Homo sapiens: one gene and its partner. The protein of the gene in region 2 purifies or fractionates together with the protein of the main gene of each other region. This does not show direct contact. Each region holds a gene or a part of one and is shown on either strand. Other genes may lie near its edges.

Region 1 (7,295 bases), on a different chromosome or scaffold from region 2:
CCTAACGGGTTGTTGCAGTAAAACCCACAGGTACCACGTGCGATGTACCTTTCACGGGACTGACACACAGGTGCTCAGTAAATGGAAGTCTTCAGTTCTCTCCCCTGGGTTGTCTGGCTTTGCCTCTTGCTAATTCCTAGCTTTCTCCTACAGGTTCAAAACTGTCAGTGATGGCTGTGACAGGAGCCAGGAGTCCTATTGTCTAGAAAACTCAGGACCCCCTGCCCTGCCTATACACAGCCATTCTCCATTCAGTTTCCCCCATCCCCTTCTTTTCCCTTGGAAATGTCATATTTCATCCTATGAACACATGGTTGCCAACACAGTCCCCCAGCCTGGATCACCTTTCTTTTCCTCTCTGCTCCTCTGCACAGTCCCATTGGTCACCCCGCACCCTAGTGTTTCTGGCTATGTTTCTGACACTTGAGGATTCTAAGCTGTGAGAGTCAGAGGCACTTACCTCTGAATCCCCACAAAGCCCTCAGCACAATGCCTGGCACATAGCAGGCACTCAACAAATATTTACTGAGTGCTTGCTAGGTGCCAAGCACTGATCTGGGTGCTGCAGATACAGAGGTGAGCAAGGCAAGCAGGGGCCCTGCACCAAGGAGCTCCCTCCCTAACTGGGAAGGACATGGCAATGACATCAACACATTTCAAAAAGGAAAGAAATAAAACAGAAAAAAGGGAAAGTGGCTGAGGTGGAACAGGGGTTGGCCCTGGATTGGGTGGTCTGGGTAGGTCTCATCAAGGAAGTGGCATGTGAGCTGAGTGGGATGATGAGAAGGAGCCAGCCATGGGAAGAGGCAGAGGAAAGCATTCCAGACAGAGGGGAGAGCATGCTGGAAGTGTCTGGGAAACAGAAAGAAGGCTGGGGTGCTGAGGCACTGCAAGAAGGAGAAAGAGATGGCTGTGAGGCTGGCTGGGGCGGGCCACATGGGGCCAAAGACCACAGTGAGGGGGTGGGGAGCCCCCCAAGGGCTTTAAGCAAGAGTGACATTACCTGACATGGGTTTTCTCTAGCTGACACTAGGGACAGAAGGGGAAGCAGGAAGACCAAAGAGGAGGCTGTGGTGCTGAGAGGAAAGATGACACTAGTTTGGGCCAGACAGGCAATAGTGGAGGAGGGTGTGCCACTGCCCACTGCCATTCCAGCCTGGGCGACAGAGACCCTGTCTCCAAAAAAAAAAAACTAGAATGGTGGGGTGCGATGGCTTACGCCTGTAATCCCAGCACTTTGGGAGGTCGAAGCGGGCAGATCACTTGAGGTCAGGAGTTCAAGACTAGCCTGACCAATGTGGTGAAACCCCCGTCTCTACTAAAAATACAAAAATTAGCCGGGCGTGGTGGCGGGCGCCTGTAATCCCAGCTGCTCAGGAGGCTGAAGCTGGAGAATCGCTTGAACCCGGGAGGAGGAGGTTGCAGTGAGCCGAGACAGCGCCATTGCACTCCAGCCTGGGTGTCACAGTGAGACTCCATCTCAAAAAAAAAAAAAAAAAAAAAAAGACTAGAAAGGTGGGTGACCTTGGATTCATGATACTACTGCTGGAACTCATTTTCCTCTGGAGATAACGAGGGTAGTGACCGATTCTAGTTTTATGTAATTGTTTAGGGGAGTTTTCTTAAGCAATGCCCGTCAAGTGCTTGGCATATGAACCCTTAGCTGTTAGTATCTCTGTGTTAGGCCTATCGACTTTGGTAGGGGTGATGGGGCAGGCGGTGCAGCTGGAGAGGCCCGATCACGAAGGGCCCTAAATGTCAGAGCACAGAGCGTGGGCTGAATCCTGTGCCCCGGAGAGCGGTGGGAAGGATTCGTAGAGGGGAATGTGCTGCTTAGACATGCATTTTGGAAGCCCCCTTCCCTGCAGAGAATCCAGGACTGGTCCAGTAGAGGAGACGGGGAGATGGGGTAGGGTGTCCGCTCACTTTCTAGCAGGTCCACCTCAAAGTCCTTGGTGGGCAGACGCACGGAGTTGAAGCCCCAGGTGGGGATGTGGCCTTCCAGCGGTGGCTTCCCCGACAACACGCGCAGGAACGTGCTCTTGCCTGCGCCATCCAGCCCCAGCACCAGCACCTCGCGCTGTTCCAGCTCCTCCAGCGCCGGCTCCTCGTCCTCCTCGTCCTCGGGCTGCGGGGAAGCGGAGGTAAGGTTGCGGCTGGCGGCCTCCCGAAGGACCTTTCCCGAGGGAAGACCGAAGGCACCAGAGGGCCCAGGCCCGCCTTCCACCCGTCCTGGGACAGGCAGGCATGGTCTGGATGAGTGGGACGAACGCCGCCTTTGCAGTCCTGAATTCCAAACCCTTGGCGAATTCCTTAAACGCTCGCGCGCCCCGCTTCCTCCACCGGTCTCGGAGTCCCGACCGCAGGCGGGAGGGGATGGGGTTTCTCCCGACATCCCCACCCCCGGGCGGGGTGCACTGCGCAGGCGCCGGAGGGGCGCGAGCCGACCCGGCTGGGCCCCGGGATGCTCCCGAGCCGCGCCCTCCAAACTCCGGCCCCCGCTGGAACACCCGAGCCTCATGGCGTGGAGCGACGGCGTGGCGCCAAGGCGCCGCACGCACCCAAGCACACCCACCCGTTCCTCGGTTCCCGGGCTCTGACCGCCCACCCGCGCGGGGCCTGTGCGCTGCGGCTGCCAAGCCCTCGACCCCCCAAGCTCCCGGCACCAGCAGGGCCGTTCCGTGGTCACACCCCTTGGCCACATGCGCGGAGTCGCAGCCCAGCCTGCCCGCCCTTCCGCAGGCCTCGGCCCGGCACTCACGTCCCACTCGTCCCACTCGGGGAGGCGGGCAGCCTCCGCGCCCCACCAGGCCTCTCCCCGGTCCCAGCGCCGCTCTCGGCCGCGGCCGAAGTAGGTCTTCCAGAGGATGAAGAGCACCGAGCCCAGCACCGCCGCGGCGCCGCCCAGCGCCAGCACCAAGGGGCCCAGCGGCCGCGGCGCCATCGGGCCGGGCGAGGGACGCAGGTGCGGGTTGCACAGGCCGAGCCCACTCGCCCGCCGAAGATGGCCCCGCTGCGACTGCTGCGGCCGCGCCCACCCACCCAGACCCAGTCCCGCACTACAAGCCCCACAATGCACTGCCGCTGTCACGGCAGGCCGCCCGGGACCCGGCGGCGTGGGTGGTGGGGCGCTGGCCGGCGCGCGGGGACCTCCGGTCCCCCTGCCAGGTGCAGGGTGGAGGAAGGAGAGGCTGTGCCTGGGGAGGACGGGAGACGGCGGTGCTTGCTAGCATCCACCAGGGGTTAGCTCACGGCTTTTCTCCGTTACCCCTTACAATGATACCACGCAGAAGGGAAAACCGAGGCCCAGGAGTTAAGTAACCCGCCCAACGCCGCATCGTAGTGCTTTGGTGTAGCCTGCGTTCAAACCCAAGCGATCTGTCTCCCGGTCATCCCTCAAGACCTCGGGAGGAAATTGAAGCAAGACGCCCGATATCACACGGCAGTGGGGTGGCAGAGGCAGGAATAGAACCCAGGTCCGTGGCTCCCCGCCACCTCTAGCCTTCTTTCGCTGCCTCCCGGACCACAGGGGTTTTGCTGGGGTCCTGGTCAGGCTGAATTAAGCAGTGTCAGGACTTCAGAATGTTTAGGGCTGACTGCCTTGTCCTAGGTACCCCCAGTGACTGCCAAGGCTTCCACGTGTGTAGCACGAGGAGGAAGAACAGGAGAAACGACCTGAGTACAGCAGTCGGGTTCTTTTGGCTCTCCAGAGGGGTGACGCCATGTACGGCTGGCTGTAGGGTACATGGGTCGAGAGACCGCCTGTGGCTCTCAGGGCCCAGCAGGGCTACCTCTTCCCCTTTATATTGTCTCAACTCTTCACCTCCTTTTAGTTTGCGATTCCTCTGTACCCCTGGCTCTGGGTCCCAGCCCCTATTCCTTCTGATTTGTCCCCCTTTCCCTTTGACTACATATATATGCTCCTCTCCTCCCAGATAGTGATGTTTTAGCTACATCTTATTTCTTCCGGCATTGATTCTTTTGAAAAATTTATTTCTGGCCGGGTGTGGTGGCTCATGCCTGTAATCCCAGCACTTTGGGAGGCCGAGGCAGGCGGATCACCTGAGGTCAGGAGTTCGAGAATAGCCTGCCTAACATGGTGAAACCCCATCTCTACAAAAATTAGCCGGGCGTGGTGGCACGTGCCTGTAATCCCACCTACTCAGGAGGCTAAGGCAGGAGAATCGCTTGAACCCAGGAGGAGGAGGTTGCAGTGTGCTGAGATTGCGCCACTGCCCTCCAGCCTGGGTGACAGAGCAAGAATCCGTCTCAAAAAAAAAAAAAAAGAAAAAAAAATTAGCTCCTCCTCAAAAATACACCCACTTAGAGGGGAAAACCCACAAAATTGCTAAGATTAAAAGTTTGGCTGGTGCGGTGGCTCACGCCTGTGATCCCAGCACTTTGGGAGGCCGAGGCAGCCGGCCGGATCACGAGGTCAGGAGATCGAGACCATCCTGGCTAACACGGTGAAACCCCATCTCTACTGAAAATCCAAAAAATTAGCCGGGCGTGGAGCCGGGCGTGGTGGCAGGCGCCTGTAGTCCCAGCTACTTGGTAGACTGAGGCAGGAGAATCGCTTGAAACTGGGAGGCAGAGGTTACTGTGAGCCGAGATTGCGCCACTGCATTCCAGCCTGGGCAACAGAGCGAGACCTTGTCTCAAAAAAAAAAAAAAAAAAAATGTTTACAGTCTATTATTTGTGGAAAAGAAATAGGTGCTCTCACATAGGTGCTATGCACCAAGACCATGACAGCTTCAGACATTGGTACCACAAATATCAGGGATAAAGTTTTTTTTTTTTTTGAGATGGAGTCTCACTCTGTAGCCCAGGCTGGAGTGCAGTAGTGTGATCTCAGGCCTCCCAAAGTGCTGGGATTACAGGCATGAGCCACCACACCCAGCCAGAAATAAATTTTTCAAAAGAATCAATGCCGGAAGAAATAAGATGTAGCTAAAACATCACTATCTGGGAGGAGAGGAGCATATATATGTAGTCAAAGGGAAAGGGGGACAAATCAGAAGGAATAGGGGCTGGGACCCAGAGCCAGGGGTACAGAGGAATCGCGAACTAAAAGGAGGTGAAGAGTTGAGACAATATAAAGGGAAAGAGGTAGCCCTGCTGGGCCCTGAGAGCCACAGGCGGTCTCTCAACCCATGTACCCTACAGCCAGCCGTACATGGCGTCACCCCTCTGGAGAGCCAAAAGAACCCGACTGCTGTACTCAGGTCGTTTCTCCTGTTCTTCCTCCTCGTGCTACACACGTGGAAGCCTTGGCAGTCACTGGGGGTACCTAGGACAAGGCAGACTGCAGCCTCCGTCTCCCAGGTTCAAGAGATTCTCCTGCCTCAGTCTCCAGAATAGCTGGGATTACAGGCACCTGTCACTACGCCTGGCTGATTTTTGTATTTTAGTAGAGACGGGGTTTCGCCGTGTTGGCCAGGATGGTCTCGAACGCCTCAGCCTCTGAAAGTGTTGGGATTACAGGCCTGAACCACCGTGCCCAGCCAGAAAAAGTTGTTTTAATCAAATAGTAACTTCCAGGAAAGTCTTAAGTTTTCATGTATTTGTGGCTAAGAAATAAATGAGATGATCCCACCTTATGATCTACATAAGGGTGCAAAGTGCTATTTCTTCCTTTTCTGACTGAGAGGTGATATACATCCCTTCCTGTGGTGGATAAAGAGCAAGGTGCCAGCTTTGCTTCCACAGAGGTTAAAAAATATGGCATATTTTAAAAGCTCCAAATTAACAAAGGAACACCTTTAACACACACACGCACGCACACATATACACACAATTATACTGCAATGTAATTGTGCTGTTGATAAGCTAATTATAGAATTCATCAAAGACTTTAATTCTTAGTGCACTCAAGCACCCTGGTCTGGAAACAGCGCTTAAGTTTCAAGTCGCATGAGCAAGGCCTCTCAGTTCTGCCAGTACGGCTGGAAGCCTCAAATGCTGAAATCTAAATGTGACATTCACCCTGCACCACCAATCATAGCTCTCCTGAGATGAGTTTTGATGGCGAGCTTTGGACTGGGGTAGAAACGTGGATAGATTTTTGCAAATTCTGCTGTAACTTCGTTGCTTCGCCTTCTTTGTGAACCCTTCAGGGATAAGAGAAGTCTTCCTTCAGGATGTGACTGACACCTCAGCTGGCGCCTCTAAGCCTCACTCTCCTTTATGTAAAAGAGAAATGATATTAGGATCGCCTTCCCTAGGGGAGGCAGGTGAGGTCGGTTCCCTTTTTTGGTTCAGCTACTAGTACGAACCCTGCCTAACCCCGCTGTTTTGGGAGACAGTCCGTGCTCACTGCACCGCTTGCTAATCGAAGTGACTTCTCATCTCTCCCAGTCTCAGCTTCACCTCCGTGAAGTGGGAAAAACAGGATGACAAGTGCTCGCACTTGGCAGCCCTTTTTGAGCCTTGAGGGCTTGGGTTTGTGGGTGTCATTTTACTATGCTACCTCCGTCTTCCCTTAGCTTGTCACGGACCCAGGCACAGCACACGCGCTGAGGAAGTGGTGGTGAAGTGTGGCGTTTCCTCTCGGGGCTGGCGGATTCCACACTCGGAGCTGCGGCTCCACAACTCGCTGGGCGGCGAAGGGCATGGGGAGGGGGCGGGTCTCGCGATCGTGGACAACAACTCCCAGCATGCCCTGTGCTCCGCTGGGCCAAGTCTCGCGCGAGATCCCGCGGTCTCCGGAGGCTTTATCTGCAGTGCTGCCTGCCCGCTGGGTGGTACTGCTACCTAGTGGGTCTTGGGGACCTTCGAAATCGCCGCCGCTCTCACAATGGCTTGGGTCCAGACTGCGCCACAGCCTCTCGGGAGACGTGGGCCCTCGGAACCTTTTTAGTGCCGGACTCCGGGCCGCAGGCAGTCCCGCGGCAGCAGGATCACAGGTGAACAGATGGCGGGCCTGGGCCCTCCCTTGGGGCTGCGTTCTCTGGCGATCAGGAGGGGCGCTTCCGGCGAGGCCCGATCTCGGGGCCCCTCCAAGCCACTCCCCTCTCCCCGCACCTCTTAACCCTTCATCCCGGCTTCGAGCTCGGCTGGGTCGCCTCTTGCCTCCCTGGCTCCGCTCTCTGGGGTCTCCGTAATGGGGCTTCTCTCCGGGAATGCCCTGCAGCTCCCGTACGGGCTTCCCCTCCGCTTCGTGGGACCAGCCCAGCCCGAGCCCCCGCGGCTTGTCCTCAACCTCATCTCCCCACACCCCGCCTTCGGCTAGGGTCCTGGCCCTAATCTTAGCCTGGAGGGGTGGGTGAAGCAGCCGGCCTTTCGTATCCTGGCG
Region 2 (7,021 bases):
GTTTCATTCCCTCTGACAATAACTTATCACTATTATTCAATATCTTACTTATCTATACAATAATAGTATGTATAAAAAATGACTGCAGGCAAACATTCTAGGTTTTTGTGTGTTCAAAAAATGAATAGATCAATACTAGGGCTTACAAAACAAATTAACTGACCGGTTGCATTTTTTTGAATGCAATAGATCATTAAAAAAAATGATCTGGGCAGAGGCAACAGTAAAGTAAAGATTCAACCACATAATAGCCATGATTGAGTAATCAACTCACTTGTGATGCTGGAAACTATGTTTCATCTGGATACCCAGTTTCACCGAGAAAACTAAATTGGGCTGAAAATTGTGGTTGATCTGTTTGAGTAGAGGTTATTTTAGCTTGTGAGCAGTGACACGGTGCTCTGGGATTCTGGTCGTGTTGCTCCATCATATAAATTAACTGTCATGGACATTTTACTTTCCATGTAGGTAAAGATAATAAAAGGCTGAGGTTCACCACACAATGTCATGGAAAGGGACATATCTGTCAGCCCAGTGCACACCAGTTCAGACAATCCTCATGTCCACAAGCTTTATATCTATTCTAAATTCATAGGAGTGGGACAGAAGGTTCTGGATTAATGGAATCCTTAAAAAAAAAAAAAAACTGTCTTGTCTACAACCTGAAACTCTTCTGGAATCCAAATGGACTGGGAGCAAACTGGTTGGTTTTTGACAGAAATAAAAGGCCAAGGAAATAAGCAAAATTTATTTCCTTTCTTCAATAATTTTATAATCCAACTCAGGAGCACAGAGTCTCAAAGTCAGTAACCTCCCACAAGCCATCTACAGGCAAGATTTATAATCTGTATAAATAAGATGTATCATCTATATACGGATGTATTTATAACTTACAGCACTCTATTCCCCTGTCCTTCCTCCTTGTCAATCCTATACCTCACATCGTCCCAGAGGAAATATCTGGGAAGATTCTCTTAGCTGTGGCACTATGATTTCCTAGTGAATAGTTTTGTAATCTTAATTTACTAATCCCATCCTTCTATTCAGATGACCAGCAATTATGTGCCACTTATATTAAAAATTCAAAATAAGAAAATGAAAGTTAAAAAAGTAAATAGCCCTATCTGAAAGTTATATATGTAAACAAGAGTTCATGAAAGTTTTTTCTCCAATCACTGTAGTTGATCTTTTGAAAGTTCAGTTTCTTTGATCAACAATCAGTAAACCTCAAAGGTTAAACGTTGAAGAAAAAAAATCTGGAAAGAAAAGAGGTAGAAAACTTAAAATTAAAATGGACACAGCCCCTACTAGAATGAATAGAAACATTAACATAATCGGTCAAGAACACTTACTGGGCATATTCTGAAAAGATGCTTTGACAACTTTAAGCAGATGCCATAATCCTTAATCTCAATTAATTTCTGATAACCAGAGTTTGGAACATTACAAATAGATGCAGGCCAGGTGTGGTGGTTCACACTACCAATCCCAGCACTTTAGGAGGCTGAGGCAGGGGATTGCTTGAGCCCAGGACCATCCTTGAAACCCCATCTCTACCAAAAATACAAAAATTAGCCAGTCTCATAACCCGGTCTCAAAAAATAAATAAATAAATAAATACAAATAGATGGAAGTTAATAAGTCACTCGAGGGTAGCAATTTTCAGACTATAAAAGTTTGAGAAATCCAAGATGCTTAATATTTCAATGATGGGGAAGCAGTTTGGTCTGATGTGGAAAAAAACATAGACATTGAGACGGCTGAAACTCTATAGGAAAGAAAGCAAATGTGATGGAAACTTAGTCAGTTAGAAAAAGGAGAAAGTAGGAAAGTGTGAGTGTTTTGAGGCAGTGGAAAGCACAAACTGAGATTCAAATCATGCTGACAGTATCTCTCTACCCTGTGTAGGACACCTTTGTGCCTACAAAGGTAGGTGGATCAGTGGCCTATGACCCATCACTGATCCCAGGACCAGGTGGCTTCACAGATGAATTCTATCAAACATTCTAGGAATTAATGCCAATCCTGAGTTTAGAAACAGTTCTACATTATCATGTGTAATCAATAAATGATTTAATTCTTTTTTAAAAAAAGAAGCAGTTCTAAACTCAGTTTATGAGACCAGCATCACCCTGATACCAAAACCAGACAAAGACACCACAAAAAAAAAAAAAAAACCTACAGGCTGACATCCCTAATGAACACAGATGAAAAAATCCTCAACAAAATACTAGCAAACTAAATTCACCATCACATTAAATGGATTGTATATTCTAATCAATTCTGATTTATCCCTGGCATGCAAAGATGGTTCAACATATGTAAATCAATCAATGTAATACACCACATTAACAAAGTGATATAAAAAGGCCACATGATCATCAAAATAGAGCATAAAAAGCATTTGACAAATTCAACATCCTTGTGTGATTAAAAAAAAAAAACTCTCAACAAATTAGGTACAGAAAGAATTTACCCCAACACAATAAAGGCCATCTATGAAAAGCCCACAGCTAACATCATACCAAGTCATGTAAGACTGAGAACTTTTGCTCTAAGATCAGGAAAAAGACAAAGGTGGCCACTTTCAACACCTCTGCTTAACATAGTACAAGAAGTCTTAATCAGAGCCATTAAACAAGAAAAAGAAAACAAAAGGCATTCAAATCAGAAAGGAAGAAGTAATATTATCTCTGTTTGCCGATGACATAATCATATATGTATAAAACCCTAAAAGTGCCACAAAAAAACCTGTTCAAACTAATAAATGAATTCAGTTAAGAGGCAGGATACAAAAATCAACATATAAAATATCAGTCAGGTTTCTGTACACAAACAGCAAACTATCCAAAAAAGGAATTAAAACAAAATCCCATCCCCAATAACAATAAAAGGAATAAAGTATTTAAGAATAAACTTAACCAAAAATGTTAAAGACTTGCACACTGAAAATCATATAGCAACTTATTCTTTCATGATTATTGTTTTGCCATCTTTGCTCAAGAACTAATGGTAGCTTTGCTTGACAATTATATGAGATGCAGGTTTTCACTGTCATCACTTAATTTAACCTACCTCGTCCCATATTAATACATAACTTAGACTCTCCATACCAACCTAGTCATTTGACTACAGTCTCCCATGCACCATCTCCCCATTCCTCCTGCATATTTGGGGTTACTCTTCATAACCTGTTTCATGTCATTCCTCAGCTCTAATCATCAATGCCTCATTTGAACCTTGATGGTCCCGCCTGAGTGGTCTCACTGGTGGAAGACGATTATACAAGGACATGAGTAATTATACTTATCAATAGCAAACAGAAGTTTTTTCAATATTAGCCTCCTCCAGAAACTTTCTGCAAGAGCTGATTTTATTTCTTTTGCCTTCATTCTTTTTATAGCCAATAAGGTCAGTTTAAACAATAGTAGTCTGCAAATCATTTAGCTAATATTAAAATATTTGACAAATTATTTTAGTGGCACCTAAAATACTTCTCTTATGACAAATGAAAATCCAGAGGATGTTAAGGGCCAAAAATAACTGTAGTCACTGTCAATAAACAGACATTCCCCTGTGCTCCCCCCGTCCCCACTTTCCTTGCCCTTCGGTCCAGGCAAGTTTCAAATTCAGAAAAGTCAGTCTGGAATTATTTCATTCTACATTTCAGGACATAAGTGCAAAGGACAAGAGAAATGTATTTCTTTTCACTCAGCAAAGAAAGTCAGTGGTAAATGTGAGTTCAGTTCTTGCTTCTGCCATTTTCTCCTCTGTTCAAAACCAATCAAGGCCTGGATACTTGACCTGCTGGTTGGCAGGGGTCCTCTGTTGAGTGACCTGGTACTTGTCTGAAGATGAATGCAGGCAGGTAGGAGTCAGGGGAAGAGCCCCTCTCTGTGTGTGTGTCCGTGTCTGTGTGTGCATGTGTGTGTGTGTGTATGAATATGAGAGTCCTAAAAATCTCTCTTTTAGATCCAATACTATGTGCTATAAAAGAAGTCATTGAGAACTAACAAAAGTATGTACAGCAATTTATAAAATCTGCCACAATCACCTTTCCCTTGGCAGTTGAAATAAATTAAATCTGTCCCACATCTTATATCTGTCTCTCTGCTTTAATCTCCACATTGATTTTTGACCAAAGAGCCTCAAGACGTGAAATAATCAAATTGCACCAGAGAAAACACAAATGATCTGTTTTGCTTTGCATCTAAGTTTTATATTCAATCTTTCACTTATAAAAATTGAAAAAAGGAATTAAACTGAAACATACAGTCAATGGCTGTCATCTTCTGTCAATGATAACTTTTTACTAATGGATACAAGGTCCAGTTGACATTCTTTCAATCTGTCAACTGAATGTCAAAAAGCCATTTGCAACTGTTCAAAACACATGGACACTAACACTACTGACCATTACATTTAGTCATCTTCATTTCATTGGCAGAGTTTGACGCTGTTTATAATTTACATACAAAGAAATAGTTTTGTGCAAGAAACTTAGTCATCTTTGGACAGATGAATGACATTTTTATTAATTAATAAGAGTTAAATAACCATATCTCCTAAAAATCTGTTACCTTCATTTTCTCTATAATTTAAGATGTTTACAATTACTTTTTCAGCATATAATGGGCAAAATCTTATACGTGTTTGAAAATGATTCTTTATGACACTTTTCTGAATAGAACATTTTTTTCTTGCCTTGGTCTCTAATCTGTTTTCACTGTTTCTTTTTCCTGACCAGTTTCAAAAAATACTTCCATAATGCAAGGGATTTTTAGGTAAGAAGTTCTTTTTGTCTGTGTCTGAAGGAACAGAGTCAACATTTAAAATGAGGAGTCTCTGCTAATTTTTCCTCCCCCAAATATTTCACCAACCACTCATCATTTTCATTAAATTCTAAGTCCAATGTATGTCTCACCACAGTTCCTAGAGGAACAAGGGAGGCTTGATGTGGTCCAAGGTGATTGTGTATGAAAAGATGTTATTCCCTGAAAATGCTCTCCTTATTATACACAGAGCTATAGTGGAAGCTTCTGTTTATACAAGACCTTTTCTTCTTCATTTTCAACACAGGAAGAAATATCAGTTTGCAATATGAGCAAAGTCTATAAAGGGACAGCCAAAGCCTAGCAAGCGTTGGCTCTACAAGTCTAACATAAGTCAAAGGTAAATTAGCTGGCTGAAAGCATGTGGAAGGGAGAAGGGAAGGAAGAAAAGAAAAGGGAATGGAACAGAGTGAAAGAAGGAAGGAAGGGAAGGAAAGATGGAAGAGAGTGAGGGAGAAAGGGAGGGAGGGAACTGTAATACAGGCCTCTACACAGAACTCTATATGGACCTCTATATTTGTACTTCTGTAAATAAAAAAAAAATCACTTTTTCTCACAATCATACAAAGTGGATCTAGGTTTTGTGGGGGCTGGAATCTTACACAATTTAAGGATTCATTGTGACAAAAGAGACAAATGCCTAATACACAAATAGTGCAGTGCTTTGGAAGGGGCCTGCTCAAGTGGGAGGAAGGAAGGAAGGAAGGAAGGAAGGAAGGAAGGAAGGAAGGAAGGGAGGGAGGGAGGGAGGGAAGGGAGGGGAGGGGAGGGGAGGGAAGGGAAGGGAGGGGAGAGAAGGGAAGGGAGGGGAGGGGAGAGAAAGGAGGGGAGGGGAGGGGAGAGACAGGAGGGGAGGGGAGGGGAGGGGGGGGAGGGAAGGGGAGGGAGATGGGGAGGGGGAGGGCAGGGGAGGGGGAAGGTAGGGGAGGGAAGGAAGGGGAGGGGAGGAGGGGAGGGGAGGGAGGAAGGAAAGGAAGAAGGGAGAACAAAGTGAAAGGTAAAAATAAATTATTTTCTCTTCCGTGTCCCGACAGTGAGGAAGCTGGCCCAGAGGCAGAGCTGGGAGAGCCTGGGATGGCCTTCCTCTCTCTCAACTGTAATGCAGGCCTCTACACAGACCTCTATATGGGCCTCTCTATATTAGCACTTCTGTAAGTGAAAGAAATTACTTTTTCTCATACTCATGCAAAGTGGATCTAGGTTTTGCAGGTCCTGAAACACAATGAAAGGCTTCATTGTGACAAAAAAAAGACAAATGCCTAATATACAAATAGTGTGGTGCCTTGGAGGAGGCCTTGGAGGAGGTGGAAGCCCCAAAGGCCAATTTCACCAGCACAAAGATTATACTCAGTAATGGTCACCAAAGATCTAAGTCAGTGGTTCTTATAGTATGTTTGGGGGTCCCTGAGGATCCCTGTGTCCCTTTTGGGGATCTGCAAGGTCAAACCTATTTTCCTAGTAATATTAAGATGCAACATCAGTCTGTTTCTGCATCCACATCTGAAAAAGACTGAGAGAAAAAAAGGCTCCTGTCTGGCAAACTGGCAACCGCATTCTCAAACACCTGCTGAAATGCACTCAACGCAGCCCTGCTTCAGCCATATCAACCTAGCACTGTCTTGTATTGCTGGGGTATGTGGGGATTCTAACACCTTATCACCACCATCAAAAATATTCATGTAATTGGGAAGATAGGAGTTCTACAGCTGAAACCTGAAGGCTGGTAATACCATATGTTTTTCAGCCCTTTACGAATTTCTTTTTTAAGCTTCAGGATGGTGGCAGATAAGAAAATTGGAAAGATTTTTATTGCTGTATCTGATTGATGGATTCACAAGATAAAGAAACCCTCAATACTAGAATAATGGCCAACTCACCTAAATTCAGCCATTTAAAAAAATGCTGAATATGCGCATTAAATGAACATGTTTACCATAAATAAAAACAGAGACCAGCCCACGGGGCTGGCTTTTTCCATGTTTGATACCAGAAGATGTCTGGTGCTCACTCACCCTCGGCTACAGTCAATCTCATCACGAAGGTTTCGTTTTCTCCTGCGCTGGCCTGCAAGTAGCAGCGGTAAAGCCCCGAGTCTGAGACTGTGACATCGGGGATGACGATGACGCTCCACCTTCCGTGGCTGCAGTTGCTCACTATTTGTCTTGGGAACTTGGAGGTGAAATTTCTGC

Evidence for each region. The genes of interacting proteins can lie anywhere in the genome.
Region 1: the proteins of CD226 (region 2) and ARL10 purify together in Homo sapiens (co-immunoprecipitation; 2 studies listed by BioGRID and IntAct, with this or other methods). This does not show direct contact.

The regions. Positions count from the first base shown.
Region 1 is NC_000005.10:176,361,213-176,368,507, reverse strand, and holds the start of ARL10 (ADP-ribosylation factor-like protein 10), read right to left. Parts: upstream 3,022-7,295; 5' UTR 2,945-3,021; coding exon 2,762-2,944; intron 2,129-2,761; coding exon 1,927-2,128; intron 563-1,926; exon of another isoform or gene 477-562; intron 1-476.
Region 2 is NC_000018.10:69,888,857-69,895,877, forward strand, and holds part of CD226 (CD226 antigen isoform a precursor), read right to left. Parts: coding exon 6,845-7,021; intron 1-6,844.